Homo sapiens: one gene and its partner. The protein of the gene in region 1 purifies or fractionates together with the protein of each later gene. This does not show direct contact. Each region holds a gene or a part of one and is shown in the gene's direction. Other genes may lie near its edges. The genes, in order: STK32C and FDFT1.

What was found.
Region 2: the proteins of STK32C (region 1) and FDFT1 purify together in Homo sapiens (affinity purification with mass spectrometry; 3 studies listed by BioGRID and IntAct, with this or other methods). This does not show direct contact.

The regions. Positions count from the first base shown.
Region 1 is NC_000010.11:132,300,903-132,317,399, reverse strand, and holds the start of STK32C (serine/threonine-protein kinase 32C), read left to right. Parts: upstream 1-9,449; 5' UTR 9,450-9,566; coding exon 9,567-9,828; intron 9,829-10,177; exon of another isoform or gene 10,178-10,478; intron 10,479-16,497.
Region 2 is NC_000008.11:11,826,274-11,842,771, forward strand, and holds the end of FDFT1 (squalene synthase), read left to right. Parts: intron 1-3,970; coding exon 3,971-4,147; intron 4,148-5,244; coding exon 5,245-5,397; intron 5,398-12,114; coding exon 12,115-12,336; 3' UTR 12,337-13,025; downstream 13,026-16,498. UniProt on the Homo sapiens protein: Catalyzes the condensation of 2 farnesyl pyrophosphate (FPP) moieties to form squalene. Proceeds in two distinct steps.

The DNA.
Region 1 (16,497 bases):
CTTTAGTGAAGACCAATGAATGAATTTTATGCCTCATTCATGCTTTTGGTGTCACATGTAATAACTCTTGGCCTAACTAGAGGTCATAGAGATTTTCCCCTGTGTTTTCTTCTAGAAATTTTATAGTGTTAGCTCCTACATTTAGGCCTCTGATTCAGTTTGAGTTATTTATGTAAGGGTCTAGGTTTATTGTTCTCATATAAATTTTCAATTGTCTCAGTACTTTCAGTTTTCTTTGGGAAGGAGTTTTAACTTACAAATTCAGTTTCTCTTGTAGATAAATTATATTTTTCAAATAGTTTCTCCATTTTATCTGAGTTACAAATATAATGTACTGGTACTACATTTTCACAACATGCCTTTCTTCATCTTTTAAGTATCTTTTTTTTTTTTTTTTTTGAGATGGAGTCTCACTCTGTCCCAGGCTGGAGTGCAGTGGCATGATCTTGACTCACTGCAACCTCTGCCTCCCAGCCCAGGTTCAAGTGATTCTCCTAATTTTTGTAGTTTTAGAGTCGGGGTTTCATCATGTTGGCCAAGATGGTCTCAATCTCTTGACCTTGTGATCCACCAGCCTTTGCCTCCCAAATTGCTGGGATTACAGGCATAAGCCACCGCGCCTGGACTCTTTTAAGTATCTTTAGATTCTAGAATGATAGCCTTTTCTTCATTTCTAATATTCTAATTCCTCTTTCTCCTTATTCTGTAATCCTGGGGCTTTATACATTTTAATGACTTTTTAAAGGATCACTGATTTGCTTTGCTGATTTTCCTGATCTTTTAGACAGGATCTCACTCTGTTGCCCAAGCTGGAGTGCAGTGGTACGACCATGGTTCACTGTAGCCTCAACCTCCCAGTCTCAAGGGATCCTCCCGCCTTAGCCTCCCGAGTAGCAGGGACTACAGGTGCATGCCACCATGCCTGGCTAATTTTTTTATCCTTATTTTTTGTAGAGACTGGGTCTCACTATGTTGCCTAGGCTGGTCGTAGACTTCTGGGCTCAAGCAATCCTCCCACCTCAGCCTCCTAAAGTGCTCGGGTGACAAGTATGAGTCACCGTGCCTGGCCTTATTTTTTTAACTTTTTATAGCTCATCTTTACTCTCTTCTCCCATGAACAAAACTTCCCATCTTTGCTACATTGGCTTATAGTAGTGATTTTTAAGGTATGTAATTTATTTTTTAAATTTTTTTTTACAATTTATTTTCTTTTTAATTGGCAAATAAAAATGATATATACTTATGGCATGCAACAAGATGTTTCAGAATATGTATACATTGTGGAATGGTTTTTTTAGCTTCTTAAGACAGAACTTAGAAAACTGATTTTTAACATCTCTTATTTTTCTCATACAGGCATTTAAAACTAGCTGCATCTCATACATTTTATTAGTTTGGGTTTTATAATCATTCCATTTGAATATTTTTAAATTTCCTTGTGATTCATTATTTGATAATGGATTATTGTTTAATTTCCAAATGTTGGACTCTCTTTTATAATTGATGCTTAATTTCATTGTGTTCAGATAACACATTATATATTATTTCAATCCTTTGAGATTTATTGAAAATTTTCATTTTGTTTCAGGATATGACATCCTATTTAATATTTCTTGCACACTTGAAAATAATGTGTAATATGCAGTTATTGGTTATTGTGTTCTATAGATGTCGATCAGGTCAACTTGCTTAAGAGTGTTGCCCAAACTTCTATATCCTTAGTAATTGCGTATGTGTGTACCTGTTCTAGCAATTCCTGAGATGGAAGTGTTAAGCTCTACTACTATGACTGTGCGTTTGTCTATTTTTCTCTCCGGTTGTCAAGTTTTGCTTTATATAGTTTGAAGTCTTCTTATTAGGCGCATACATATTTGGGATTGTTAGGTATTCTTTTTTTGTGCTATCTATTTATTTATTTTACTTTTAAGTTCTGGGATACATGTGTAGAATGTGCAGGTTTGTTACATAGCTATACATGTGCCATGCTGGTTTGCTGCACCTATCAACCCATCATCTAGGTTTTAAGCCCCACATGCATTAGGTATTTGTCCTAATGCTGTCCCTCCCCTTGCCCCCAAACCCCCAGCAGGCCTTAGTGTGTGATGTTCCCCTCCCTGTGTCCATGTGTTCTCATTGTTCAGCTTCCACTTATGAATGAGAACATGTGGTGTTTGGTTTTCTGTTCCTGTGTTAGTTTGCTGAGAATGATGGATTCCAGCTTCATCCATGTCCCTGCAAAGGACATGAACTTATTCTTTTTTTTTTGAGATGGAATTTCGCTCTTGTTGCCCAGGCTGGAATGCAATGGTGCAATCTCTGCTCACCGCAACTTCCGCCTCTTAGGTTCGAATGATTCTCCTGTCTCAGCCTCCCAAGTAGCTGGGATTACAGACATGCGCCACCACGCCTGGCTAATTTTGGATTTTTAGTAGAGATGGGGTTTCTCCGTGTTGGTCAGGCTGGTCTTGAACTCCTGAACTCAGGATCTGCCTGCCTCGGCCTCCCAAAGTGCTGGGATTACAGGCATGAGCCACTGCGCCTGGCCAAACTCAATCTTTTTTATGGCTGCATGTTAGGTATTCTTAAATAATTGATCCTTTTATCATTTGAAATGTTCCTTTTTATCTCTAATAATATTCTTTGTCTTGAAGTCTACGTTATCTGATATAAATATAGCTACATCACCTTTCTTATGATTATTATTTGCATGGTATATCTTTTTTCCATCTTTTTACTTTTAAATTCTTTTTTAGTGTTTAGGTTATAATTCATCTTTATATTTAAGATGCAGCTTTTAGAATCAGCATATACATATTAGGGTCTTGCATTTGTATCCAGTCTGATGGTCTCTATCTTCTAATTGAAGTGCGTAGTCCATTTACGTTTACTGTAATGATGAACTCTACCACTCTGCTCTTTATTTTCCTTGTGTCCCATGGGTTGTTTTCATCTTCTCCTGGTGATTTTAGTTACATTGTATCTCCTCTGTTGGCTCGTTAGCTGGGCCACTTTTTAAAGGCATTGCTGTGGATCACGATAGCCACCCTCAGTCTGTCACAGTCAAACCTGAGCTGTAAAACACCACTTCCAGGGAATGTCAGAAAAGCTCAGCAGTGTCATCATCTCTTTGCCCTTTGTAAGTTGTGCAGTTTTACATCTGCACATGCTATCAGGCAGAGTGTTATTAGTTCTGCTATGAGCGATGAATTGTCTTTCAACATGAAATTGATTTGCCCCTCCTTTATATAGATGCAGAAGGGCAGAGGGGCAGAGAAGGGCGGGGCCCAGGTAAGGTGGTGCATCGCGGTGCTGGCCGAGGGCTTATGGCTGGCTGAGTTCTGACAGAGGCTGCTGCTCCATGGATGCCCTGCTTGGCCAGGTAGGATGCCTTCACATGGGCAGGAGAGAGACTCTGCCTGCGAACTCTTGTGGGAAAGAGGAAGGAGAGGTGGCTTATCCTCCCAGCAGTGGTTTTCCATTGGCCAAAGTTCACTGCATGGGTCTTAAACAACCCCCATTTCAGCAGCCTTTCAGGAAGCCAGAGCTAGCACCTTCCACGGAGCTCATGAGGCCTCTTGACCTGGTCCTTGTCATCTCCTTAGCCTTCGTCTCTTGCCACTCCCTGCCTCAATCTCTCCAGCTTAACCAGCCTGGCCTTTCATTCATTCCTTTCTTCTAAAGCATCACATTCTTGCTCACCTCTTGGACGCTACCCATGTTCTGCCCGGAGGGCTGCTCTCCTGCTCCCCTTTGGCTGACGTCTGCCCATCTGTCAGGTGTCAGCTCTGCTGTGGGCTGCCTCGAGGGGGTGTCCCTCATGCTCTGTCAGGACTGGCATCCACTCCTGCTCTCGCAGCCCTCTGTGCATCCCCTCTTTGCCTGCTATCCACTGGGTTCCCGTCTCCCTCGCTGAGAGGGGTGCACGCTCCATCTGACCATTCACTATGTCAGCAGTGTCTGCTGCAGTGCCTAGCATGGAGCAGGTGCTTGGCAAATGTCTGTCGTGTGGCCCGTGTGGAAGGGTCCTTTTTAGCCTTAGAGGCTGCCTCTGTGTGGATGGTAAACAGCCACGGCGTTTAATGTTGCTCATCTCAAGGCCAGTGCTTGTTAGCTGCTGTAAGGGTAGAGTGTGTGACTTAACCGTCACTCGGCATGGCCTTAGGTCCTGTTTATAATTTGGTATCTTATTGCCACAAAGAGCCATTCCGTTTGTCTTATGGTCTCCAGCTTAACATTAAAGCTGGTTGGTTGTTGTGTCTAAACCGTAAAAGGGAGGGGGTATCAGGAGACCCGTCTGACCTCCCATCCCACCATCATAGCCAGGAACTCAGGTTTTTAATTTAATTTTATTTTATTTTTTGAGACAGAGTCTCGCTCTGTCGCCCAGGCTGGAGTGCAGTGGCGTGATCTCGGCTCACAGCAATCTCCACCTCACAGGTTCGGGTGATTCTCATGCCTCAGCTTCCTGAGTAGCTGGTATTACAGGCGTGTGCCACCACGCCTGGCTAAGTTTTGTATTTTTAGTAGAGGTAGAGTTTTGCCATGTTGGCCAGGCTGGTCTCGAACTCCTGACCTCAAGTGAGCCGCCCACCTCGGCCTCCCAAAGTGTTGGGACTACAGGCATGAGCCACTGCATCTGGCCTGGAACTCAGTTTTAAGGTTTTTCTGGAGTTTCCTTGGCCAAGAGCGGGTCTGTCCCATCGGTTGGGGGCTTATGGTTTTAATTTTAGTTTACGTAGTGCAGCATTGAGCCACCAAGAATTCTTGCCAGGCCTTGAAACCTCATGGAACTTGCCCTGCTGGATTTGAACTTACTTGGGACCGATGACTCTTTTTATTCCTTCTTATTTCTCCCTTTTGAAATGGGAATGTATATCTTATGCCTATCTCATCACTGTACCTTGGAAGCATATTTTCCAGTTTCACAGTTACACAGATAAAGGGGAATTTTGCCCAGAATGGATTGAACTGAGGTCTCACCCATGCCTGATTTAGATAATGAGTCTTGGACATCATTTCTGATTGTCTAAATCAGGCATGATTTAGACAATGAGTCTTGGAGACTTTCGAGCTGAAAATATTTAGACGAGAGGCTGGGTGCAGTGGCTCATACCTGTAATCCCAGCACTTTAGGAGGCTGAGTGGGGTGGATTTCTTGAGCCCCAAAGTTTGAGATCAGCCTAGGCCACAGTGTGAAATCCTTGTCTCTACCAAAAGCACAAAAAATCAGCCAGGGGTGGGGTCATGGATCTATGGTCCGAGCTACTCAGGAGCCTGAGATGGGAGGATCGCTTGAGCCTGGGAGGTCGAGGCTGCAGTGAGCCATGATAGCACCACTGCACTCCAGTCTGGGCAACACAGTGAGACTCTGTCTCAAAAAAAATCTTGAGCTGGGATTTTGGACTTAGAGTTGCTGCTGTAATGGTTGGGACTTTGGGGCTGTAGGGTGTGGTGAATCCATGCTGCCCATGGATGTGGTGGGTTAAATGGTGGCCTTTTGCCACCAAAGGACATGTCCGTGCCGGCCCTGTGAATGTGACCTTATCTGGAAAGAGGATCTTTGCAGATGTAACTAAGTTAAGGATCTCAAGATGATATCATCCTGGAGTAGGGTGGGCCCTAAGTCCAATGACAAGTGTCCTTATAGAGGAAGAAAAGGGCGGAGTAGACAGATGAAAAGGCAACGTGATGATGGTGGCAGCAGGGGCTGGGGTTGTGGGTCCTTAAGCAGAGCTGAGCGGTGAACTCATGCTCGGCCCCGGCGCACTGCAGTGGGGGCGAGGGCTCCTTCCTAGTGGCTGCAGCCCGTCCTGCATGTTCTCCGTCGCTGTGCTCCTTCCTGAGTCACCAGGTGGCCACATGACCTTTAAAATCAATACTGTCACCATAGCAACCAAGTGTCCCCACACGTGGGCTCCAAGGCCCTGGCCTTCCAAGAATCCTCAGTCCCAGGCCCCGCCAGGGCTGAATCTGAGGGCGCCACGGCCATCTGTCTTCCATTTCCCAGGAGGGAGGCTGTCCGTGGATTCTCCACATAGGTGGACACCAGCATCGGAGTCCCATGGGAGCCCATTTCCTGTTTTGGGGGTCAGTTCTGAGATGTGTTTTCCAGCAGGAAACAGCACACACGAATCGTGTGATCTGAGGAGATTTAATAAAAGGACTCTTAACAAAGGCGTGGGCAGAGCATGTGTTAATTTCATAATGATGACAGAAGATGAAGCACACATCTCGGTGTGACTGAGCTGTGTGCCAATTATGTGGCAACGGAGGACCCATGTCCAAGGCATGTCCCTCAGGAGGCGTGGCTTTATGGACGAATTATGAACAAATGCACATGAAGCCTGGTGTCAGGGACTGCACCTTGTCCCCCAAACCACCCCCAGCCCTTCAGCACATGCCACGGCCACTCACTTGCTGTCCTGCAGCATGGACCCTCCTGTCCTCCCGCACAAGCCGGTTTCTACCTTAGGGCCAGCTCCTGCTGTTGGAACCCGGACACCTGGCCTCCCTTGGGCTACTCGTTCATGCTCCGGCCTCAGCATCAAGGTCACCTGCTCAGAGACTCATGCTGGACTACCCAAGCTAAAGTGGTCCCACGATCATGCACGTGCTGCCCAGCCATGTGCCTTCCTGTGTGCTCCTGCGTGCTAGACGTCAGTGCACTGAATGCATTTATCTGTCACATTGTCACTTGGTCTCCTGTCATTGGAAGGGGCAGACACCATCGCTGCCCTAATGAAGTTGACGTTCCCGGGCAGCATGGGCACACAGGGGAACTCAGGAATTCTCTACTGGCCTCACTGCCCCTTCCCATCCACAGCTGACTCTGTCCCAGCCTCAGTCCCTCCCAGCATCCCCCTAGAACTTCAGAGCTACCTCCCATGAGGCACCAGGGGTTGGCATCCTCTTGGGGACAGCAGTTCCTGACCCCTCCTGTCTCATGCCTACACTGTGCACCTCTTAACGCTCAGTCTTGTGTTTGCCTGGACCCTGAGCCGTGGCTGGACAGTACAAGAGTTGCACCTGGACAGTACAAGAGTTGTGCCCTGAGCCCACAGGCCCCTCCAGGGCTGATCTGCACTGGCCAAATCTTAGGACCCGGCATTCTTTTGGGAGCTGCTGTTTCCCTACAGATCCTTCCTGTTTCCTGACTGAGAGGCAGGTGCCTGGCTTGGTGTTTGAGGCTCACAGCAAGGGTGAGGTTGGAGGGTCTCCTAGTTAAGTGTGCAGATGTCCCCATGAACCCCTCTGCCCCCCTGCACTCTTGTCTTCTGCAGGACTTGGTATCCCTAGGTCAAGAGCCCCTTTGGACCCTCAGACCAGAGGACTGTCCATCCCCAACTGCCCGGGCCGGGGAGGCGTCCTGGGCTCTGGCTGTATTCACATTCTCCCGCCTTTTGGGGTCCTGGTTACCTGCAGGTCCTCAGCCTCTCCAATCTTCAGAGTCAGCTTTCTACCTGCTGTCTGAAGTCTATTAACATGTCTTCCCTTCTCCTGTTCCCTCTTAGGTGGTGGTGGGGACGTTATATCTTTTATTCCTTTTCTGCCACTTTTAGGGGTCAGAGGGAGAGGAGGAGAGGCGATGATGTAAGTTCAGAGGCTGCGTGTTTTGGGAGGAGCCCTGGGGAGTCTGATGTGTGCACCGGGTACGCAGGGTTCCAGGCACTGCCCTGCCTTGGTACCTCCCCTTCCAAACGCTCCTTCACCACTCCTGCTGGGATGGGCACCGAGGGCTTCCTCTGAGGCAGGTGCTGAACCCACTGCCTTCTGCGTGCCTGCTGGAGAATGGCAACTTTGAGGGAGAGCAGGGAACAGAGCTTCGCAGCTGCAAGGGCTGAAAACTCGGCTCTGTGCACTGGAAGTTAGAGACCGATGCGTTTGTGCTAGCCAGGCAGGGAGAGCTGCGGTGGCTGGTTGGTCAGGTAACCTAGGTTATGCTGCCATAAAAATACCCTCTAAATCTCAGTAGTGAAATGCATGCCATGTGTCCTAAGCGGGTGCATGTCCAGGTGGGTGCATGTCCTAGGCGGGTGCATGTCCAGGCGGGTGCATGTCCAGGCGGGTGCATGTCCTAGGTAGATGGGCATGGTTCCATTCCTTATAGTCCCCAAGGGATGGGGGCTCCTGTTGGCCCAGAAGCCACACAGACTTCCCGTGCTCACATTTCATGCATCAGGCGGTTAGGGCGGGCGGCCACACTGAATGTCAAAGGCCGTGGGGAGGCAGGGCTCACAGTGGCTGAATGACAGGGTAGACAGTTGTGTGCGGTGGGAGGGACGGGAGCGGGAGACACTGGCCTTGGAGCCATGTTGGGGATCCGCTCATCGTCCGGGCGGGCAGCAGGAAATCCCATCTAGGATTTCACCGAGGAGGAAGAGACCCCGTCTTTGTGTCCTGGTTACAGGGCAGAACTTAAGGAGGTAAAGGCTTCCTAAAGTCAAACAGCCCGGTAGCAAAAACTGATTCTTCAGTGACAAGCGCCAGGGGCAGGCGGCGAGGCTCCATGCAGAGCCGCGCCTTCTCCAGGGCACTCCAAGGCGCCCAGCACTTTCCGCGCAAGGTCGCGCCTGGCCCTGCGCAGGGGCAGAGGTGCCCGGAGGTCAAGCCGCGCCCCAGGCCTCCGAAATACGCCGAGTGCCGAGGCCCCTGTCGCATCTGGACAAGGGGACCCTGGGCGACTCGGGCACGCGGTCTCAGGCCGGACGGGGGTCGCGAGGATGGCACGGGGGTGCCCGAGAGCGCGGGCGCACGTGCTCAGGGCTTAGCGCCCACCCCAGGCGCCCGCGTGTGCGCGCGCGCAGCCAGGCCCGCCCTGCCCCACCCCACCCTCTGGCGCAGCGCTTGGACTCAGCCTGCCGCCTCCTGACCGTGAGCCGGGCTCTGCCCGGCAGATTCCCGCCGCCCGCATCCCGGGCCTGCAGCCCGGCCTCACCCTGCGCAAAGCAGAAGGCTGGAGTTTAGGGCTCCCCGCACTGGGCGGCGGAAGCCCGCGCGCCGGCTGTTTTCACGAAGAAGGCAGGGGAGGGAGGCCCCCGGAGACCGCGAGAAGGTCCCGCCGCCGTGCCGGGCACAGCAGTCCCCGTGCCAGGGACGCCGACCTCCGGGGCCCCAGGATACCCGTGGGGACGCTCCCTGCCTCCCTCGCTCTCGTACCCGCCGTCTAGTCTGAGCCGTGGTCCCCGTGTCCCGGCGAACCACAGCCCCCATCCCTAGACTGGTGGCGGCCACCCACTCCCTAGCGACACTCCAGGCACTAGCCCCGCCCCTGCCCCGCCCCCGGCTCGGCCCCGCCCCTACCCTTCCCGAAGCTCCGCACCTGCCACGCCCCGGCGCTCAGCTCCGCCTCGACCCCTTCCAGGAGCTCCGCCCCGCCCCCGCCCCTTCCAGAAGCCCCGCCCCTGCCCCGCCCCCAGCGCTCGCAATCTACGGGGCGGGTTCCACCGCCCAGAAGAGCGCACGGCGGGCGCTGCCGGCCCCGAGCGCTCCCGCTACCACTGCCGCTCCCGGCCCTGCCGGCCGGCCATGCCCCGAGTTCCGGCTGCCGCGCGCACCCAGACCCGGCGATGAGGAGTGGCGCCGAGCGCAGGGGCAGCAGCGCCGCGGCGTCCCCGGGCTCGCCGCCCCCCGGCCGCGCGCGCCCCGCCGGCTCCGACGCGCCCTCGGCCCTGCCGCCGCCCGCTGCTGGCCAGCCCCGGGCCCGGGACTCGGGCGATGTCCGCTCGCAGCCGCGCCCCCTGTTTCAGTGGAGCAAGTGGAAGAAGAGGATGGGCTCGTCCATGTCGGCGGCCACCGCGCGGAGGCCGGTGTTTGACGACAAGGAGGACGGTGAGTGCGGGCACGGGGACGACGTGGGGGCCGCGCGCTATTGCAGGGGCGGGCGCGGCTGGGCGGCTTTTTCCCGCAGGGGTTCCCCCGGTGTCCGGGACGGCTTCCCGGGGCGCCCCGGCTTCCGGAGAAGCTCGCGCCGGGTGGCTGCGGCCCCACGCGAGTTCTGGGCGCCCGCCCGCGTCCTCCGTTTCTAGTGGCGGCGCCGCAGGAGGAGCAGGCTGGGCCCGGGCCCTCGGGGCGAGGGTCCCCCGCGGCTGTGGCGTCTCCGGGCTTGCGCGCGCCTCCGCCCACCGCCCGTGGCAGCCCTGCTTTCCGCTTTCCGTGATCCGCTCGGGCCCACGTGCGGGCTCGTTTGTACTTTGCAGTTAGAGAGGCGCTCACCTGTGCCGCCCGAGTGCGAGTGAGGCTCCTGCCCCACAGGTGGCGGGGCCCGGCCGCTCAGAGGCTCAGTCTCCTTGGTGACCGCGCGGTGTCCATCCTCTGCTCACCCATGTGCGCTGGAGGCAGGGCCAGGCCGTTGTGCAAAGACCTGCCCTGCCAGGAACGAGTGCGCTGCTGAGTCCTGTAGATAAAGCCGCCAACCCCGGGGACTGGTGTCTCCTGAGTGACCGTGCAGCCGTGGGCGCCATAGAAAGCAGAGAAGGCAGGTGAGGTGACATGGGACAGGCCTGCAGGGACACCTCCCGGGGTGCCAGGGGGCCCCGGGGACCCCCGAATTATCACCTGCAGGGAGATGTGGTGCCGCGTCTGCCTGTGGGCACTGTAATACAGTCACATGCAGACATACAGCTCTTTTCTACAGGTAACATGCAAATCATTTAAAATCGTACATTGATGACACATTTCATGTTTTTTGACATTTTCTTAAAATACTTGAAATGTGCATTTTTCATTTATAGATAGCGTGCAGAGGTATGATGGATCCTTCAAAATTTTAGAGCCCAGCGCTCAGGAGCCAGGCTATTTACTTGCGATAAATAATTTAAGCATTATGGGAAATTACAGTAATACGACCTCAGGCCGGCGTTGGTGAGTGTGGGGCCGTGCACCGCCGTTCCTCCGGGAGACGGCACCGGGGATTCATGGTGTGCTGCCTAGAAGGAGGGCTGAAGGCCCAGCCACACCAGGCCCCACACGCTCCAGGGTGGCCCGTCACTGTGTCCTGAACTTCGGGACAGCAGAACTCACGATGGTGAATGTTTGAGAAATGTTTTTGTTTTTAACATAAATATTCAAAGTAAAGAAAGCCCAGAGTGAACTAGGAGCTGATCAGGAGGCAGATTTGCCTCTCGTTTCTGGCTGCGGGTTGAGAGAACGTCTGAGAAACGCATCTGGTTTAGCACTTGCTGGTGTCAGCCAAGAGCTGGCTGCTCTTCTGGGTCTCGGCACCGTGCTCTCCGGGGGTGGGAGTGGAGACAGTGGTGTGGCACTGGGCTGCCTTCAGCTTTGTAGGGTAGACTTCCCTGTGTGTTCACAGTGTGTTATGTCACAGAATTCAAGGATCACTAGAAAGGCAAAAAGAGCAAGCACAGAGTCTGTCTGTGGGGCTCACGGTCTGACTTGGGAATTCTTTCACATCCCCAGCATCACCGTATTTGCCTGTAGTAGGACGGCAGAGATTCGGCTGACGGTGTCCCACGGATGCTGCTGGCTCCGTATGGCTTGGTATGCAGCCACATCCCCAAACTGAGCACCCGCCGGGACTCAGCTGGGCTTTGTGTGGTGAAATCAGGAGGGCAAGACTAGGCCCTGGCCCGAATAGCAGAGGACATCTCTGGGCGGTGACCGCTTCCCTCCGCTTCTTCCTGTCACTGGCAGGGCACAGACAACTTGGGAGTCATAGCACAGGGTTTGCAGAAGAATGTTCTGCACCTCTGAGTGTGGATGCCGGGGACTCGTGTTGGTGGAAGGGATTCAGTTTGGAAGGAGAAAGGAGAGTCTTTTAGGAAGGGACTGTTGCCCCTGAGTCCCACCCCTTTCAGGTTGGTGCAGTCATTTGCCTGGTACTTTCGTGGCCCCGTGGCAGCACTGGCTTAAGGAGGCCCTGGTGCTGTGTTGGTGTCTCGAGTTTACTGAATCTGCACGGTTGCTATGGCAATGCTAGACCTTCCGATGAATTTTTTAGATTAAAACACCTAATTAATATATCAAATTTAGTATGCAGAGAAAAGGAAAAAAGAAATTAAGAGTGCTGTTTAACAAAGTGCCAGGTAAATTTCAACTGATAGGCATAGTTGCGACATATAAGACTAAATGTCCTCTGTTCCTTTTAATCCTTGTGGACTCCAGAACCATTTTCCTAATTTGGCAGATATTTGGTGCATGTACAGAATTCTCTGCACGTCTTTGTCATGCCAGAACTGAGGGTCTCCAGTTTTCCTTCCCCTCAGCCCCTCACATGCTCCCATTCTATCCCTTCTCTGACTTCGGTGAAAAATTCATTTTTGGGGTTGAACTTGGTTAGGGGGTCTTTCTGCTGCTGCTCTGCACCAGAGCTGCATGGCGTTGGGCGAGCCCCTTCATTCCTCTCTGTCTTGGTGTCCTGGTGATACCAAGTGAACCTGAGAGGAGGCTCCGGTACCTTCCCGCTAAGCAGCTCTGCAACCTGGGGGGCGCTCGCCCGTCTCGGGGTCACAGCATTGAGTCTCCAGCCTGACGTGGCATTAGCCCGCCAGCAGGAAGTAGCTCCTCCCTGAGGGGCTTTGCCTTCATCTGGGGAAGGCTGGAGTGGACAGGCCCTTGCAGGCTGTGGACGGCCCGCCCTGGGCGCCGGGCCGGGCAGGCAGTGAGGCAGGACCAGGGGCCACCAGACTCCTCAAGTCATCTCTTAAAATTAGAAACACCTTTGTTTTTTCCTAATTATGAAAGCATTAAAATGTATGCATTTAAAAACATTCTATACTTTATGCCACGGTATCTGTAACTTCAGCATTGGGATCACGGTGTCACCTCCCAGCCTTTTTCTGGAAATACAGTCCCAGGTACAGCCGTGGAGAAACACTCTCTCTTTGTTAGCAGAAGTGGGATCCTGCTCTGCATGCCAATTTGCCGTAAGGTGCTTGTTGATTCAGCGATATGTTGCCAGCCTCTTCCAGACCTGAGGCATCATTTGTTGGCTGAATTTACAACAGTTCTCAGCCCCAGGCTGTGGACCCGAGTCATTCACTGGGCACTCTTAAAAAATGCAGATGCTCAAGCCCCACACCCGTGAACTGTGGGTGAACTGGGGGGGTTTGGTGGGTTGGGGGTGGGGCTCAGGGGCTCAGGCTTTTTTTTTAAGCCCCTCTTGAGTTTTACCAGCAGTCGAGGCTGAGATTCCCGACTCTGCAGTGCTCCCCTGAGCAGCTGTGACTTTCTCTGCTTACTTAGTTTCCTGTCACAGGACTGTGAGGTGTTTCTGTTTTATAAATATCATAAACGACGTATTGATGAACATCGTTGCAGATCTTTGTGCACTTGGCATTGTTTCCCTAGGATACATTTTTAGGAACGACATTGCTCAGGCAAAGGGGTCCGTGTGAAATACCTTAACACGTGTGGCCGCTCAATTGGTCCCTCTCTGAGCATTGTTTATGGGCCATGCTGTCGTGGGGTAACCGGGCAGAGGGGAAGCAGAGAGACTGACAAGACAGGGAGGCAGGAGCGAGTGCAGTGGGTGGCGGGAGGCACCTGCAGGGGAGAGAACCAGACCACCTGCTGCCAGCGGAGCTGGCGGGAAGGGAAAACCCATTTTCACTTGCTCCAGGAGCGGGAGGGTTTGATCGCCTTTTCCCCTGAATCCTCTCCAGCTTTGGGTATCAGCAATGTTTCTATTCTTTGCCAGTCTAAGAGATTAAAAGATGGCACTCATGCTTTGAGTTTCTTTGATTATCAATGAGGTTCATCATCTTTTTACCTTAAATGTTTAGAGCATTCAGCTCTAAACACATTTCACGTGTTTCCACACTTTTTGAATTGCCTGCCCGCGCTTGTTAGCGGCATGTGTCCTGTGGGATGGCAGCCGCAGGTTCCTCTCGCCCTTCCTGGTACACAGGCTGAGCCTTCAGCAGCTTCCCTCCCACGTTCCTCATTTATCTTTTAATGTTGCTACTTAGCTTTTTTCTCTATGGATGTGTTTAATTTGTGTGTGGTCAGATTCATCATCTGCCTTTGTGGCTGCGTCCGGCCTTGCCTTTATGTGACAGCAGTCCTTCCCAGCACAGTTAATAATAATTTAATTCATAAACCTGCATCTGTACTTTCTTCTAGCGCTTCTGTGGTTTCACTTTTTGCGTTGGAAATTGCAGCCCGTAGGGAGTATCGCTTGACGGAGAGTGAGAAAGCTCTCTCCTTCTCGCATTAGTTCTCCTCTTTCCCAGGATGAGTGCAGTTAGGATGTTTCCCCCTGTAGGGATCTGAGGCCTCCCACGCAGCCCCTCACCGCAGAGCCCCAGGCAGGCTGCGCCCTTGCTGCTCCCGGCCTGTGGGACTGGAGTGGGACCGTTTCCACGCTGGCTGCTGCTGATGTGAAGGAACGCTCCACTTTTACAAGGTTCACCTTGTGTGTGGCTGAGACTTCGCTGCCTCTTGCACATGACTGCACTTGGCTAAATTCTCGTTAGTCTATAGCTTTGAAGTTCATTTTGTTGGCTTTCTGGGTGGTCTGTCACGTTGCCTTGGAGTGACTCTAGTGGCCCCGTGATGGTTTTGCCTCGTTCTTTCCTTATGGTGTTGCCGGAGCTCATGGAGCAGAGAAGAGAGAAGGTCCTGAGCCCAGGGGCTGCCGAGGGCTGGGGACAGCTCCTCCCGCACGGTTGGTATGGACGGGTTGTCCTTCCAGAGCGTCAGCTTAGCCCTAGTGTGGGAAAACTTTCCAGTCAGGTGTGGACTCGCATTTTGGAGGGTGCTCTTTCCTTGCCTCCTGACCCTGTGAGGCAAGGGGTGGGGGCTCTCTGTGTGGCCCAGACACCCATCCCCCACAGTGCAGGCGCTTGGTGGTCAGAAGCCTGGTGGCTGCAGAGGCCCCTGGTCTGGGGTGTGGACTGGGGAGGAGGCCTATGGTCCTGGCCTCCTGCCGGGCACCCCGTCACATGTTTGCTCCTGGCTTCCCCGGTTCTGGGCCCAGCACCGGGTGTCCTGGGGGCCCTTGGGGCAGCTGTGCAGCTTGATGCCTCTTCTCCTTCCCAGCTGTGAGGCTGCTCTAGAATGGACTCGGGACCTACTGTCATACTTTTTATGTAACAAATGTCAGCTCTGCGTGTCTATCCATCTGGTTGTGCATTTTACAAGGCTAAAAATAAGCCGGCTTTTCTTTTAGAACTTGAACCACCCAGCTTTCCAGTGGAGAAGTAATGCGAGGATGCCTTGGAGGTGATTTTGTTGAGGGATTGATTCTCTGCGGGTGAAGCCCAGAGACACTCCAAGGTGATCTGAGGGAGGCAAAGTCACAGACAAGTGTTTCTTCCACACGGAGCCGGGACCACTCAGAGCAGCTTTCCTGCCTGTCCCGGACCCCCAGTCACCCAGGACTTGTGAAAATGCGGCTGACCCAGCCGGCCTGGGGTGGGGCCAGGAGCCCACATTTCCAGCCGGCCCCAGGCGGTGCCAGCGCTGCTGGCCCGCGGACATACTTTGAGTGTGAGAGTTTAGTGAGTATATAGCCGGTGCATCATGGTGAGTGAGGGCAGGAAACCCACGGGGTGCTGGTCCCTTGGCCCGGGCTCCCGATGGGCCTGGAGGGGGATCTCTAACCCTCTGTACCACGGGGTTGCCAGTCATCAGAGGGCGCCTCGCGGTGTGGACTTTTAATTTGCTTTTCCTCCTTCTGTTCCTCTCAGTCCTCTTGAAGGCCCAGCCTTCTCCACACGTGGCCGACGTGCAGCTCCTGGTTCACATCTTGCATTTTCACCCGGCCCAGTAGCCCGCACTGTTTCCTTTACACTGGGATGCGGCATCTGTCTTCTGACCCGGATCTGAGGCAGGGTAGTCTGGTGTGTCCACTGGCGGGTTCCTGGGGAGTGTGGCCCCGTGCTTTTGGGCGGAGCATCCTGTGTCCCCGAGCCCACTGCGGGGCCTTGTCTTCCCCGGGGACCCCCACACCTAACGGGCGCTCCCAGCTGTGTCAGGCAGGACCCTCCTAGGGAGGAACCCGGGTTCCAGGCCAGGCCCTGCAGGACCACTCAGAGCAGCTTCCCAGACTTCCTCTTGAGCCCCTCGGCTCTTACATCAAGTAAGGGCCTGTGCCCTGTGGCCCTGACCCTGTCTCTTCCTGGTTGGGAAGCTCGGAGCTGCATCTGGGTTCACATTAGTGGAGGACCAGGCCTTCTACTTGGTGTCGGGAAGCTCGGAGCTGAATCTGGGTTCACGTTAGTGGGGGACCAGGCCTTCTACTTGGTGTTGGGAAGCTCAGAGCTGATTCTGGGCTCATATTAATGGAGGACCAGGCCTTCTACTGGGCGTTAGGAAGCTTGGAGTTGAATCGGACCTCGTGTTAGTGGACGACCAGGCCTTCTACTTGGTGTTGGGAAGCTCAGAGCTGAATCTGGGCTCACGTTAGTGGACGACCAGGCCTTCTACTTGGTGTCATTTCCCTTCCCAGCCAGATTTTCCTCCTCACCTAAAAAGCTCCGTTGAGCTGTGTGTTTCTCTGAACCTCCCTCTCTGCTGTCTGTGTATAACTGGAGATAA
Region 2 (16,498 bases), on another chromosome or scaffold:
TTAACTCTTGTGGTTGCGGGTGACAGAAAAACAAGTCAGGCCTCCCCCAGGCAGCATAAGGGGATGTGGAAAATAGGATAGCTTGACATGAGTTTGCTTCAGGTAGACTGGCTGACTCCCAGGATTCACACCACGTAATCAGTATATTCAAGCCTTGCTGTCCTTGATTTCTTTCAGACGGTCTTTCTCCAAGTGGTGGATATGGTAACAACCCATGTGCACTAGCTTAACAAAAAGTTCTTAGGAATGGCTTTGTTCGGCCTGGCGCAGTGGCTCATGCCTGTAATCCCAACAGTTTGAGAGGCCAAGGTGGGCGGATCACCTGAGGCCAGGAGTTCGAGACCAGCCTGGCCAACATCGTGAAACCCCGTGTTTACTAAAAAATACAAAAATTAGCCGGGCGTGGTGGCAAGGGCTTGTAATCCCAGCTACCTGGGAGGCTGAGGCAGGAGAATCGCTTGAACCCAGGAAGCAGAGATTGCGGTGAGCTCAGATTGTGCCACTGCACTCCAGCCTGGGCGACAGAGTGAGACTCCCTCTCAAAAGAAGAGGAAGGGCTTGGTTCTTCTGCTCAGCCCTGAATCAGTTACTGTTGCTACACAGCTGAGTTCTCTGGCCTCGCCTGGATTACGTCTACACAGTACACACAGAATGGATTTCCCCCAAAGAAAGAATTCTGCAGCAGGAAGGGGAAAGGGATGGCAGGTAGACAAAAACTCCAGGTGTCTGTAATAAGGGACAGGGTCGATCTTTAATTAAAACATGGACAGGGAACAGAAAGCTTTTGATACTGATTTTGTTCAGAAGGAAAGTAGAAAATTTTATGACTGTTCCCTGAATTTATTCCAGCATTTACCTTTTGCTTTCCATAAAAGTGTTTCCTGCAGCCAAGTACTTTAAAGTTTTAAAAAGACGGGTGAGGCTAAGTGTGGTGTCTCATACTTATAATCCCAGTGCTGAGGCCAGGAGTTCAAGACCAGCCTGAGCAACACAGCAAGATACCATCTCTATAAAAAATTGTTAGAAAATGATTCTGCTGAAAGAGCAAAAATAAAAATTAAAGAAAGTAGAAAAAATAAAACTAAATTTAAAAGATTAACTGGGCATGTTGGCATGCACCTGTATTCCTAGGTATTCGGGAGGCTAAGGCACAAGGATCCCTTGAGCGCAGGAGCTCAAGGTTGGATTGAGTTGTAATCACACCACTGCACTCCAGCCTCGGTGGCAGAATGAAACTGTCTCAAGAAAAAAAAAAAGTGACAGAGGGAAACAATATTTGCAATTCATAGAGCAGATACAGGGTTCATATTCCTAATATTAAAAAAAACTTCTAAAAGTTAAGAAAAAGGCCAACTGCCCCACAGAAAAATGGGCAAGGAGATAAGAACAAGATAGTTCACAGGAAGAGACACACAGATGATTATTAAAAATCTGAAAAGATGCTGAGTCTTACTCCTAAGAAAAATTCACATTTAAACTACTCTGGGGGCTGGGCAAGGTGGCTCACGCCTGTAATCTCAACACTGGGAGACCAAGGTAGGAAGATCACTGAAGCCAGGATATCGAGACCAGCCTGGACAACGTAGTGAGACCTTATCTCTTAAAACAAAACAAAACAAAACAAAACAAAAAAAACAGTAAAAATTGGCCGGGCACAGTGACTCCTGCCTATAATCCCAGCACTTTGGGAAGCCCAGGTGAGTGGATCACTTGAGGTCAGGTGTTTGAGAACAGCCTGGCCAACATGGCAAAACTCCGTCTCTACTAAAATTACAAAAATTAGCCAAGTGTGGTGGCATACGCTGGTAGGGCCAGCTACTTGGGAGGCTGATGTGAGACTCCATTTAAAAAAAAAAAATCAAAAATTAGCTGGGTATAGTGGCACACCCCTATAGTTCTCGCTCCTTGGGAGGTTGAGGCAGGAGGATTGCCTGAGCCCAGGAGTTCAAGGCTGCAGTGAACCATGATCGCACCACTGCATTCTAGCAGCCTGGGAGACAGAGCAAAACCCTTGTCTCAAAACAAACAAACAACAACAAAAAAACAAAAAACACTTCCCTCAGCTCAGACATGGCCTTTTAAGTTTCCTAGGTGACTCGTGTGCAGCCAGGGTTGAGAAACCACTCTTGTCTTACCCCTCTTTTGCAGACACAGGGCTCAGAGAAGGGAAGGGGATTGTCTGGGGATGTATAGTGAGGCAGTGGCTGCCTTGGAAGTGGAGTCTCAGTCTCCCGGCTCCTAGGCCAGCCCCTGACCACTGTTCCATTGTCTCCCAGACAGAACATCAGCCACGGGCATGTGATGCATGAGCGTGAGCCACACCATCTTGCACACACAGGAGCAGAGCCCTGCTCTTCTCATTCACTTACTTTATCTGTAAAATAGCATCATTTCTACCACACGGTGGTGGTGTGAATAAAATGAGATGAACTTCTAGCATAGAGTGCTTAGTAAAGGTTCTGGACATTTCGTAGTAGTTGAATCATGCCAAATGTGGTCCTAGGTGATTGGCTTCTTTTGCTAGCATGTTTTCAGGGCTCCTCCATGCTGGGGCATTGCATCACTGCTTTATTCCTTTTTATCGCCTAGTATTATTCCACTGTGTGGATAGACCACATTTATCCATTCATCAGTTGAAGGATATTTGGGTTCTTCCCATTTTTTTTGGCTATGGTGAATAGTACTGTGTACATTTGCATATAAGTTTTTGTGTAGATGTGTGTTTTCCTTTTTCTTGGGTCTATGCTGAGAAGTGGAATTGCTGGTTCATACAGCAGCTCGAACCTTGTGAGGAGCTGCCAGACGCTTTTCCAAGGTCGCTCCACCATTTTACATTCCCGTCAGCAGTGTGAGAGTCCCAGTTTCACCAGCACTTGTTGTTATCTCTTTTTAACTGTATGTATATATACTTAACATTTTATTTATAATAAATGTACATAATAGAGAATTTGCCATTTTAACTATTTTTAAGTCTATTATTCAGTGGCATTAAGTACATTAATGATGTTATATAACCATCAACACTATGTTTCCAGAACTTTCGCTAGCTTCAGAGAATCCTCTAAATAATATCATTAAAAATCATCAAGCCGAATCCCACTGTTAGAATTAAAGGTTTTATTTCACTTTCAAGTTATCAGGATCCAGGGAGGTGTAATACACTTAGAGGATAGACTCAGCTCATTTCCCAGCTATGCCTTTCAGCAGCTTTCTTACCAGAGTAGGAATATAATGTTAGTCATTATTTAGAGGCCTGGCCATCTTGAGAAGGTTTACTGTTTAGTCTGCAGTACAATTATAACTGTTTTTGTATATTGGGTTATTTTTTTCAGAAGTAGGCCAGTAGCTCTAACAGGAGCCTCTTTAGCCTGAATTCGTCCAAGTAGTGCAGTGTTGCACTAGTTGTCCCTCGGGACATGCTCCCCAATACGTAACTCACTTCCAGGTTGCAACTGGACACTTACTGGTAGTCAGAAATAGCTATTGCATGGAGCTTAAAATGAACTTGATCTTCGTGAAAGATGAGTCTGCAGCTAAGAGACTTTACTGTATATCATAGTGTTTTTTTTTGTTTTGTTTTGTTTTTGTTTTTGTGACGGAGTCTCACTCTTTCACCCAGGCTGGAGTGCAATGGCGAGATCTTGACTCACTGCAACCTCCGCCCCCTAGGTTCAAGCAATTCTTCTGTCTCACCCTCCTGAGTAGCTGGGATTACAGGCGCCTGCCACCGTACCCGGCTAGTTTTTGTATTTTTAGTAGACACAGGGTTTCACCACCTTGGCCAGGCTGGTCTTGAACTCCTGACCTCGTGATCCACCCTCCTCGGCCTCCCAAAGTGCTGGGATTACAGGCGTGAGCCACGGCGCCCAGCCTGTATCATAGTTCTTATGCACAAAGACCCTTTAATATTGTTTGTAAATTCTCCCCTATGCACACGCTGACCTGTTCCTTAATCTTCTTATCTGTCTAGGTTTGGAGCAGGTATGTTAAGAAGTTAGGGGATTTTGCTAAGCCGGAGAATATTGACTTGGCCGTGCAGTGCCTGAATGAACTTATAACCAATGCACTGCACCACATCCCAGATGTCATCACCTACCTTTCGAGACTCAGAAACCAGAGTGTGTTTAACTTCTGTGCTATTCCACAGGTAGGGAAGGGGGCTCCTCTGGGTGGATACGGGGCTAAAGGGAGTGGGGTAGGAGTAAGGGTGGATTTTGCTGTGCTATATTCAAGGATATGATTCCTTAAAAAGACGATGACTCCAGTTTATTACGCTGGGAGTTTCATAGCACCCGCCTTTGCTTCCAGCCACCAAACTCAGCTCAGCCTTGAGGTTAAGCCTGCTCCTTTTCAGAACCTTCTTTCTGGATTTACTATTTTCTACAGCTATCCTAAACTAGTTAGGTTCTTTTCCTCACAGTTAAGTCAAGGTCTTTGGCTTAGATTTATGGGGAGTGCTGGGTAAAACCTGGGTGAAGCTGTTATCATTAAAAAGTCTTCATTAAGCACCTAATTACTGCTGTCCTTTTCCTAGACCCGGCATAAAAAGAACCTGGTCCGGTAGACCTAGCCTCTCAGTATGCTAGGAACTTACACTTTTTAGTTGCCTTTACCAAGTATTGCAGATACTACTGCAAATAAGTGAAGAAAGTAACAGCATTTAACTGATTTGGGAACTTGGTTTGATCTTGTTCTAATGACCAACTTCGAATGGTGGTTGAAAGTAAAATCTGTATCGCCGTCTTATGTTTCCATTTACCTAGAAATACTTTACCTTTGAGCACAGGAAATTAATCCCCTTCTGGTTGTTCTCCCCCTGGCATTGGTTTTAAATATATAATGATTATGTTTGTTGTAGGAAAAATAGAAAAACAACTACAATAGAAAATTCTTCCCATATATTATTTTGAAATACATATTTCCGATCCGATAATCCATTGCTCTAGCATGGAAAATGTTGGATTTACTTGTGTTTGCTTTTTCCAAATAAAATGGAACTTTTGTGGCTACATTATAGAATTGTTTTAGACTGCTTAATTCTGTGTGTTGTTGAGAAAGGGAGGAGTGGGGAAGGTAAAAATCTTGACATACTTTCTTCGTGGGTATTTTTTCTTGAGCGATTCCATCTTAGTTGATTAGCAGTTAGCAATTGCCCATTCAACAGAAGGTTTTCTTACCTTTTTGTGATAATGATAGCTAACGACATCATTTCTTCTTTTTTCCCTCTCTTCTTGTTGTCTCTAGGTGATGGCCATTGCCACTTTGGCTGCCTGTTATAATAACCAGCAGGTGTTCAAAGGGGCAGTGAAGATTCGGAAAGGGCAAGCAGTGACCCTGATGATGGATGCCACCAATATGCCAGCTGTCAAAGCCATCATATATCAGTATATGGAAGAGGTGGGTTTTTATTTAACTACTTGGATAATTTGTAGCTACTTTTATGATTTAGTAATGTCACTGTTTAACCAGGTTTGGATATTAGATGATCCTAACAATTCACTATCCTGTGGCCTAAAGAGACAGGAATTGATATCCTTTATAAGGAAAAAAGTCTATTCACAGGAGCCGAGCAGATTGCTCACTGCTGTGTAGTACCCTGGTGAGAGGAGATAAATGGAGCAAGGCTGTAGGTTGGAGCCCCTCAGTAGAATCATAGATTTTGAGCTGCAAGATGATGCAGGAGGCCAACCAAGCTTCTTGTTGCTGGTGAGGAATGTGAGGTTGAAGCTTGTCTGTGCTGATGCAGTGCGTGATTGAGTGGATCTCTGGCTCCCGTCCATGTGTCCTGACACCCAGTCTGGTACTTTCATTATGCCACAGGCCTCAATTGAAAAATCACAGTAGGGAATTTAGGCCAAGGAAAGCCATCAAGTTGCAATTATTTCCTAAATTTTCTTTGGAAAATTTCATTTCAAATACCAAAACCATCCTATAAAAAGAAAACTTACCTTCTTAGGTCAAATCTCTAATATTTGACTAGGTTCAAAAAGTTTATTTCTGGCCAGGCACAGTAGCTTACTCCTGAAATCCCAGCACTTTGGGAGACCAAGGTGGGAGGATCACTTGAGGCCAGGAATTCAAGACCAGCCCGGGCGACATAGCAAGACCCCATTTCTACAAAAAATTTAAAAATTGTCATGGTGGTGCACGCCTGTGGTCCCAGCTACTCAGGAGGCTGAGGCAGGTGGATCACATGAGCCTGAGAGGTCGAGGCTACAGTAAGCTGTGTGATTTCATCATTGCACTCTAGCCTGGGTGATAGAGTGAGACTTTGTCTCAAAAAAAAAAAAAAAAAAAAAAAAAGTCTTAGAGACCAGAAGTCTTTGTAATCTCTAATAATCTCTAGGCCCTAGAGCAGTGGTTTGTAAATGGAGGTGATTTGCTCCCCTCCCCCCAGAGGACATTGGACAATGTCTGGAGACATTTTTGATTGTCCTAACCGGCAGGAATCGGGTGCTACTGGCATCTGGTGAGTAGAGGCCCAGGATGATGCTGTGATCCTCAGGTGTGATCCTGTTGAGAATGAAACACTGTAGACTTTATGAAAACATACAAGACCCTCATCATTTTTCCTTTGCCTGAGCTCCCTCCCCAGAGGTTACCTCTGTTCATGGTTTTGTGCATCCGTCTAGTCCCCCTGTTACGCGTTTACAGGAATATGGTTTGCAACAGTGTTTTCATCTAAATAGAATTATACAAAATAGCGATTTCTGATTTCTCTTGCATATTGCACATTCTTCTTATACTTCCTCCCTACCTTTATCTGACACAGAAATGCTGTATGTCCAGAACTTCTATCAGAGGCACCTATGGAAGTCTAAGGGAAGACCACATCGCTTTTAAAAACCCTAAAATTTTGTAGTCACTAGATGAAAATATTCAGCCAGTGACCCAAAAAATTGCTACCAATGAGACTCTCCATTTTGCCATGTAGCCAGAACTTACTTTGATCTATGTGCCTGGGGTAGTGACCAAGTAGGTGGGTAGGAGTAATCTCAGGGAAACTTGAGGCCCCAGCCTCATGGCTAGGGTCATAATTTGAACCCAGGTCTGTCTGACATCAGAATCCATGATGTTAACCCCAATTCTAAGGGGTTCAACTACCCTTTCTAAATGGAATCCTGCTATATTAAGCACTATTTATTCATTTTATATAAACTAGAAACATTTTATGTAGTAAGTAGTTGAGAGTGTTTTGGTTTTGCAGTTTGATCACTAGTTTTAGAAACCAGTTTTTAAACACTTTGTGGCCAATTCCATTACTATATTAAAATTCAGATTTATTTGGTTTTTCCTTAACTATTGGGATTAAATCCTGGTTGTAATTCATAGTTTGAGGGCGAGGGTGGGCAGTCTACAGTTGGCTGAGCCCTGTTTTTGTGAATAAATGTTATCAGAACACAGCCACACCCATTTGCTTCTTTGTCTTCTGTGGCTGCTTTTGCAATGTGACGGCCGAGTTGAGGAGCTGCAACAGGCGATGACTTGTAAAGCTGAAAATATTTTTTGGCCCTTGAATAAGAGGTTTGCTGACTTCTGACTTAGGGTATCAGTTGTTCTGTTATCCCAGTAAAACTCAAGGCATTAGGGGAGAAATGTTAATATTAATACTTAAGTTGATTTGATTTAGGGAAATCTTTGAAGATTTCTAAGTCTTAAGCAGTAGAACCTGTTAATGGTTTTAGTTTCAGCAGTAAGGACATTTTACAAGTAAAGTTTTAAATGAAAACATTTTGTATGAAGCCACAAGTCGTCTGGCCTCTTGCTGGTGTCCAGATATTAACACTGATCCTATTTCTCCTTGCTGACCAAGTCTGTCCTTTGTAGTAAGAAAGGAAGAAACGTTGACTCTGTCCGATCTCTGGACTTAGTGTTGTAGCGAGCATGCACCTGGAAGGGACTTGCCAGAGGACCTCCTCATGCTTCTCCAGTGCTTAGTGGGGGCTTGGAGTGCAGCCCCAGGTCTTCACGAGCAGTTGGCCACACTGCAGGGCCCTCACCCCACTCTGGAGCAGCCTCTGCTTCAAACCAGCCTGGATGCTTGTCAGCTGGGGAGAAGATCAACCTGCTATTTTGGGATAGAAATAAATGCTCAGCCAAACGGCCAGAAACCCCCATTCCCCTCTCTGCCAAAGTGAATTCCTTGGCAGGGAGAATCTTGTTCGTGTCTCTGCACACTTCCTGTGCCCTCCTGTGGTTAAGTCAGAGAATCATCCGGCTCTTTGAGCCCCAGGTGCCTAGCTGCTCAAGGATGGTCCCCAGCCAGCAGCTGCCAGGAATCACCTGGGAGCCCATTAAGACATCCAGCCCCCACCCAAACGTATCGAATCAGAATCTGCCTTTTTTTCCCAAATGATGTTTTTGCTTTAATGGAAGTTTAGATGTTCATAGACAAGAGTTTTAAATGATGATCAAGCTGATTCCATATTCGCAGTTGTAAGTAGAACTGCTGAGACGTGGAAGTACCACATGGACTCACAGAGGAGCTGCTGTATGTAGCACAGCATTGCACAAGAGCTTATTTCAGTCTAGTAAACATTTATAGGAGCCTGTGTCATTTAATCATCAAGCCTCGCACTGTGGCTCACACCTGTAATCCCAAAACTTTGGGAGGCTGAGGCAGGCAGATCACTTGAGGTAAGGAGTTCGAGACCAGCCTGGCCAATATGGCAAAACCCTGTCTCTACTAAAAATACAACATTTAGCCAGGTGTGGTGGTGCACACTTGTCATCCCAGCTATTCCGGAGCCTGAGACATGAGCATCGCTTGAACTCGGGAGGTGGAGGTTGTAGTGAGCTGAGATGGCACCACTGCACTCCAGCCTGGGCAACAGGGTGAAGGCCCTTTCTCAAACCCCTCAAGTATTTGGCTTCAACTTTATGCCGGGCATGTAGATGAAAAGTCGGCTATGACCTGTCCTTGACAAGCAGATGTAACTCCTTGATTGAGGCTAGTAGGTTTTTAAGACCTGAATAATTGAGTTTGCAGAAACCTACTGTGTGCCTTCAGGTAAATGGAGAGTGGGGTTTGGTCTAGCAACGAAGCATCTAGAAGGTCCCTTTGGCCTTACCGGCTCTGTTTTAGGTAAGTCCACGTCTGAGTACCAGTGACTGCAGCTCTTCCAGTTGTGCTGTCATGCTTATATGTTAGAAATGATCATCAAAGGACTCAAAAGTTTTGCCACTAATTGTATTACCGGGGACTGTCACAACCAAGATTTCTCTTAATTTATTCACCTTACTTATCTCCTGGAAGGGCATATTGAAGTGCTCTTGGAGTTCTCTAAAAGGGTTTTTGTTGGTTGTGTATATTCACTTGGGTGCCAGCGATTGATTCCAAATAAGTAAATCTTTTTTCCCAAAAGGATGTAAGATGGCTTATGGTTATAAGTACAACAGGCTAACAAAGTACAAGTAGATGAGAAAGTAAAATGAAGAAATAAAGTCATAGGAGCCACAGAATTAACCCAGGAATGAATAAGTGTGTAGTTTGGTGCTGATGTTATCATCCTTTATTTGTACATTGCTTGTACAGTTGCTCTGAGAAGGTAAGTCTTAAATTTTCAAAAGTGAAATGTCACCGAGCATGGTGGCTGATGCCTCTAATCTCAGCACTTTGGGAGGCTGAGGCAGGCGGATCACTTGAGGTCAGGAGTGCGAAACCAGCCTGACTTATGTGATGAAACCCTGTCTCTACTAAAAAAAAAAAAAAAAAAAAAAAATACAAAAGTTAGTTGGGCATGGTGGCAGGTGCCTGTAATCCCACCTACTTGGGAGGCTGAGGCAGGAGAATCGCATGAACCTGGGAAGTGGAGGCTGCAGTGAGCCAAGATTGCACCACTGCACTCTAGCCTGGGTGACAGAGCGAGACACCATCTTAAAAAAAAAAAAAAATCTACAATATACCAAAACCATTACTTACCTGAGAAACTATTCTCAGGGTCATTGTAGTGAATGCCTATTTTATGGCTTTTGATGGCATCAGGGCACTCAGGTCATTTACAAGAGTAGTGTGTGAGACCCTGTGTGTCACTGCCACTCATCTTGGCCTTCGGCCACTGCTGTAGCAACCAGTTTCCAAGTAGGGCTGGACCTTGCCTTCTGCTCCAGAGACCTCTCGCTTCCTGCCCTTGGGCTTCTGACGAGCTGCAGGAACTGCCTGGCACGTGGGTCCCCACAACCCAGAGGAGGTGAGGGCCACCTCTCTGCTCCTCAGGGCCACCTTTCATAAGGCTCCTTGAAGGTCCCTCAAGATCAAGCCAACTCAACACATCCTTGATAGGCCTTCCTGCCTTCTGTTTCACTTCTCCACTCGTTTCCAAATAAATGGCTGCATGCAAGCTTTTGCCTCAGGTTCTGCTTTTAGGAGGAAGGCTAAGACAAGCAGTAAAGCAACATGGGCAGGCAGAAGGATGACTTCTAATAGAATTATCTCATCACTATATATTTTACTTTATGGATGCTTGTATTGAAAAGTCTTGGCTGGGTGGAGTGGCTCACGCCTGTAATCCCAGCCCTTTGGGAGGCCGAGGTGGGTGGATCACTTGAGGTCTGGAGTTTGAGACCAGCCTGACCAACACTGGTAAAACCTTGTCTCTATTAAAAATGCAAAAATTAGCCAGGGATGCACGCTTGCTGTGTGCCAGCACAGGGCTAGGCTGGAGATAAAAAGGTGAGTAAGTAGGTGCGGTGTAGTCAGGGTGAAAACTACAGATGGTCCATTTCCACGTAAGTGGAAAGGTAAAGGTATGTACAATAGGGTGGCTCCTGGCTGAACCTGGAGCTGCAGACAGGTTTTCTAGAAGGCATAATCCTGAAGTTGAGACTTGGGGGCCTAGGTAGGAGCCAGTTGAAGGGACGTGGGAGGCGCATTCCAGAGAGAAGGAGTGGTATGAGACTGGAACAGAGGTGTGCAGCAGCATCGCATGGGCGAAACAACAGTAGACAGTTGTTCTTTTGTTTTTGTTTGTTTTTTGAGACAGGGTCTTGTTCTGTCATCCAGGCTGGAGTGCAGTGGCATGATCTCGGATCACTGCAACCTCCACCTCCCAGGCTCAAGTGATCTTCCCACCCCAGTCCCCAAGTAGCTGGGGGACCACAGGTGCATGCCACGATGCCCGGCTAATTTTTGTACATTTTGTAGAAACAGGGTTTTACTGTGTTGTCCAGGCTGGTCTTAAACGCCTGAGCTTAAGCAGTCTACGTGCCTCAGCCTCCTGAAGTGCTGGGATTCCAAACATGAGCCACTGTGCCTGGCCCGGCAACTGTTACTAGACTGTAGAGAGGGAGGTGGGCAAGGGCTGGTGACACTAGACAGGTGCAGTAGGTCTGGACCATGGGTGGCCTTGCGCTACACATTACAGAGCTCAGGCTTTTTTTCTCCAGGTGAGAGGGCTGGTGCCACTGAGGCATCAAGCAGAGGTTTGAGATCTCCTTGGTGACAGTGTAGAGCAGACAGGTAGATTTGGGAATTTAAGCTTAGACTCACGTTGGAGACTGAGATAGCTCATCTGAGAGGCACTCAGGGCCTAATCTCAGGCAGTAATTTTAGGGATGTAGGGGAAGAGATGGATTCTGCACATACTTGGGAGGCTTGTGGAGGAGTGGGGAGGGAGGCACAGGGAGGACTCCAGGGTGGTTCATACGGCTCCCTGCTTCTGTTCCTGTCCCCCTTTGTCAAGCTGTGGTCTGTACTGCGTGTTCCATCTTGTTTCTAAGCTGCTTTTGCCCAGTCTTTCCAGCATTTCCCTTTCGTCATGTTAGTCTGTGCCTGTCTACGTGAACTATGGTGACGTTTATTGGGCCTGGCACTGTGAGGTGCTGGGGATGTGAAGATCATTGTGGCTCAGCCGCTGCTCTCGAGGGCCTCTGGGTGCAGTATGCACACCTGTGCCTCCTGTTTGCTCAGGAAGACAGGCTTTGAGATGAGCTGGGGCTGACATCCCCACCTTATCATTGGGATGGCTTTGGGTAAGTTATGTTCATGTTCTCTGAGCCTCCCTTTCCTCATTGGTAAAATGGGTATAAAATACCTGCCAGTGGAGGGTTGTTGTAAGTAGCCATGGAAAATGTAAAGCACATAGCACTTATCATTTTTTCCTGTGTCTTTAACAGATTTATCATAGAATCCCCGACTCAGACCCATCTTCTAGCAAAACAAGGCAGATCATCTCCACCATCCGGACGCAGAATCTTCCCAACTGTCAGCTGATTTCCCGAAGCCACTACTCCCCCATCTACCTGTCGTTTGTCATGCTTTTGGCTGCCCTGAGCTGGCAGTACCTGACCACTCTCTCCCAGGTAACAGAAGACTATGTTCAGACTGGAGAACACTGATCCCAAATTTGTCCATAGCTGAAGTCCACCATAAAGTGGATTTACTTTTTTTCTTTAAGGATGGATGTTGTGTTCTCTTTATTTTTTTCCTACTACTTTAATCCCTAAAAGAACGCTGTGTGGCTGGGACCTTTAGGAAAGTGAAATGCAGGTGAGAAGAACCTAAACATGAAAGGAAAGGGTGCCTCATCCCAGCAACCTGTCCTTGTGGGTGATGATCACTGTGCTGCTTGTGGCTCATGGCAGAGCATTCAGTGCCACGGTTTAGGTGAAGTCGCTGCATATGTGACTGTCATGAGATCCTACTTAGTATGATCCTGGCTAGAATGATAATTAAAAGTATTTAATTTGAAGCACCATTTGAATGTTCGTAATAGTAGAAAATGATGTGAATTTTCTTTCTGTTCGGCTCCTATTTTTCTCATCATTTTGTTTTCTTTAATTGGGTTGAATGGAGTAGATAGAAATATTTATGGTTTAGGTAACAGTTAGATGTTTCCTAAGAATGCAAACTGCCTTTTCCACACAAAGGCTGGGAATAAAATTCTGGGTATTCTCGTATTCTCATTTAAAGGAGTTTAGCTTTCAGAGAGAAACAGCAGGATTGCTTTTGACCTTTTAGAAGATTGGTCTCCAGTAAAGGTGGACATTTTTGAGATTTTTATAATAAAGAATTTAATTGCTCTGCATTTGTCAAGTACAGTTCGCTTGAAAGCCTGCCTGACTGTGGAAAAGATGGAGCTCAAGAATGGAGTTGATGGCCCAGCGTGGTGGCTCATGCCTGTAATCCCAGCACTTTGGGAGGCTGAGGCGGTCGGATCACGACATTAGGGGATCGAGACCATCCTGGCTAACACGGTGAAACCCCGTCTCTACTAAAAAAAAAAAAAATTAGCCAGGCGTGGTGGCGGGTGCCTGTAGTTCCAGCTACTCGGGAGGCTGAGGCAGGAGAATGGCTTAAACCCGGGAGGCGGAGCTTGCAGTGAGCTCAGATCGCGCCACTGCACTCCAGTCTGGGCAACAGAGCGAGACTCCATCTCAAAAAAAGGAAAAAATTGTAAAAAAAAAAAAAAAAAAAAAAAAAAAAAAAAAAAAAAAATTTCCCCCAGCAGTTTTTGTTTTCTAAAGTTATCAGTTTATATATTCAGGTCTTAAGAAAGGCAAAAGCTGTCTTCAGGTGATTGGCTTGGGGGCAGAACAGTACTTCTGCTCGGGGTTTCACCTTCCTCTCTACTCCAGTGCAGCAGAGCTTGTGATGTGCTCTCACTGAGGTGCTCAGTGCAGCAAGGAGGCCTGTGGACCCTCGAGTTGAGAATTGGTGTACTAGGGCATTCGGTACTTTCTAGAAGCCATTAATGCTACAGGTACTCATAAAGTCTACTCTTCTGCAGCCCATCGTGGATGGTGGCTTAATCATTGAATTTGAGTTGTTTCGAGCTGCAGCGTTGGATTTGCATTGTTGTAAGCACACTTTCTTGCTGTGACCACTGACACCAAAATTAGTTTGGGCCCAGGGAGACTTCAGTTAATTGGTTCATTTGAGGCTTAGCCCTGGACTCATTTGTCACCAGCCAAGATAACTTGCCACATGGAATACAGCCAGACCAGGGGTCCCCGACCCCCAGGCCTAGGACCGGCACTAAACCTTCTGTTACGTGGCCTGTTAGGAACCGGGCATCACAGCAGGAGGTGAGCGGCGGGTGAGTGAACATTATCACGTGAGCTCCACTCGGCGTTAGATTCTCATAGGTGCGATTGCGCGTGTGAGGGATCTGGGTTGCATGCTCCTTGTGAGAATCTAGTCCCTGATGATCTGAGGTGGCAGTTTCATCCCAAAACCATTTTCCTCCCTCTGTCCTTGGGAAAATTGTCTTTATGAAACCGGTCCCTGGTGCCAAAAAGCTTGGGGACCACTGAGCTAGACTCGACAGTATTTTCCAAGGAATTAAAGCCTCAAAACTTGGTTTGAGATTTCAGGGTAGGTTGTTAAAAATCTGTGTGTTGAAATCTAAGATTTAATTCTGCCAAAGTTCACGTTAAGACAGAACAACCTGCTGGAAAGAGATTTGGTCTGAGTGGGGCCTGTGGAAATCTTCTTTCCTGACTTGGTCATTACCTGTGGGACCACTTCCTGAGCTGTGTGGTTTGGGTGATCTCAGATTTTTTCTATCTATAAAGCTATGTGCTTTTTTCTACTCACTGAGTTGTAGAAAGGTATCCGCTCTCATTCCATTCTGAAGCTCTTTGAAAGCTTGTTTTCCTTCTAAGTATCTTCTCTACTAAGGTTGCCAGATATAATAGGGGATGCTGGGCATGGCGGCTCACACCTGTGGTCTCAGCTACTCGGAGGGTGTTGGGGCTGAGGCAGGAGGATCCCTTGAGCTCAAGAGGTTGAGGCAGAGGTTGTGGTGAGCCAAGATCACGCCATTGCACTCCAGCCTGGGCGACAGAGTGAGACTCTGTCTCAAAAAACAAACAAACTTGCATAACTGAAAATTCAGAAGTAGTTGGCCATCTTGTATTTCTGTTTGGTAACTCTGGCAACACTACCCTCTACTCCCCACTTCTAATATAATTTTATAGCATCTCTGGCATACAGTCTATTTGGATCCGACCTAATGGTGCAATATTTTGTTTTCCTCAGAGGAGCCTCTGACCCATGTGAATCTAGGACCATAAACAATTAGAATGCTTGGGAGCAAGAGCTTTATATCTGCATATGGGAACTTCCGGATCCCTGTGGGCAAGTGCAGGGAGGGCCCCTTCTTCCATCTACTGAGCCATTTCCCAGGGGCTCGGGTGTGTATAGGAGGAAGAGGGCGAGTCAGGCATGTTAACAAACATTCTAGGTTATTCTTGGCAGTTTTGGAAACAGTTCTAAGGCTGTGGTTCTCAGACTTTATATCAGAATTGCCTGATTGCTGGGAACAGAGACTGATACAGTAGGTCTGATGGGGTGCCCAAGAGGTTGCATTCCTAAATTCTCATGCAGTTTTCTAATCAGGGAGCAGCTGGAAAGGTATTGTGAGCTTGAATGTACCTGGGAAACTACCTGGGGTCTTGGGAGATGCAAATGCTGGTTCAGAGGTCTGGCCCTCTGACACTCTGATGAGCATTTCTAACAGGCTCTCAGGTGACGGCCGTGCTCCTGGTCTGTGGACCACTTCAGTATGGCTGAAGCACAATAAAAGAGGGCAAATTACTGCTTTCTTTAAAAAGAGTGGCAGCCGGGCACAGTGGCTCACGCCTATAATCCTAGCACTTTGGGAGGCCAAGGCAGGTGGATCACTTGAAGTCAGGAGTTCCAGACCAGCCTGGCCAACATGGTGAAACTCTATCTCTACTAAAAATATAAACATTAGGCCAGGTGTGGTGGCAGGTGCCTGTAATCCCAGCTACTCGGGAGGCTGAGGCAGGAGAATCCCTTGAACCCAGGAGGCGGAGGCTGCAGTGAGCCAAGATCATGCCACTGCACTCCAGCCTGGGTGACAGAGAGAGACTCCCATCTCAAAATTTTTTTTTTTAAATGCAGAGGTTGGACTGCCTACCTATACTCTAATTTCTATTCTGGAGTGATTCTCTGGAGAGGCTAGGTAAAGACTGAAAAGGCATTGTTACGTCCACCTGTCATCTCACTTGGACAAGAATCCAGGAGAAACTATTGAACTGAGGTGACAAAGTTATGATCAATGTGGTGATCTGAGGTGTATTAAAACACTGAGCTCTTTCCCAGTCACAAACACTGCAAGGCAGGTGTTTCTAACAAAGCCTTAAGCTGATGTCGACATGCCCCACAATTCCTTGTCACTCACCAGCACATCCCCGCTGGCTCCATGCTAGAAGCAGGCAAGGAGCTGCAGGTGCGTATACGATGGAGGTGAGGGAGACAGTGCGCATGGAATGAATCAACTCAGTTTGGGAGCAGGGAGAACTTTATTGAGGTTATGAATATATTCTACTTGAAACTGGAAGGATAAGTGGTTATGAATTTGTGGCTTATGGTAACCTTTGTTAAGCATCTTTCTTTTTCTTTTTTTTTTTGGTGAGACACAGATTCACTCTTGTCCCCCAGGCTGGAGTGCAATGGCGTGATCTCGGCTCACTGCATCCTCTGCCTCCCAGGTTCAAGCGATTCTCGTACCTCAGCCTCCCGAGTAGCTGG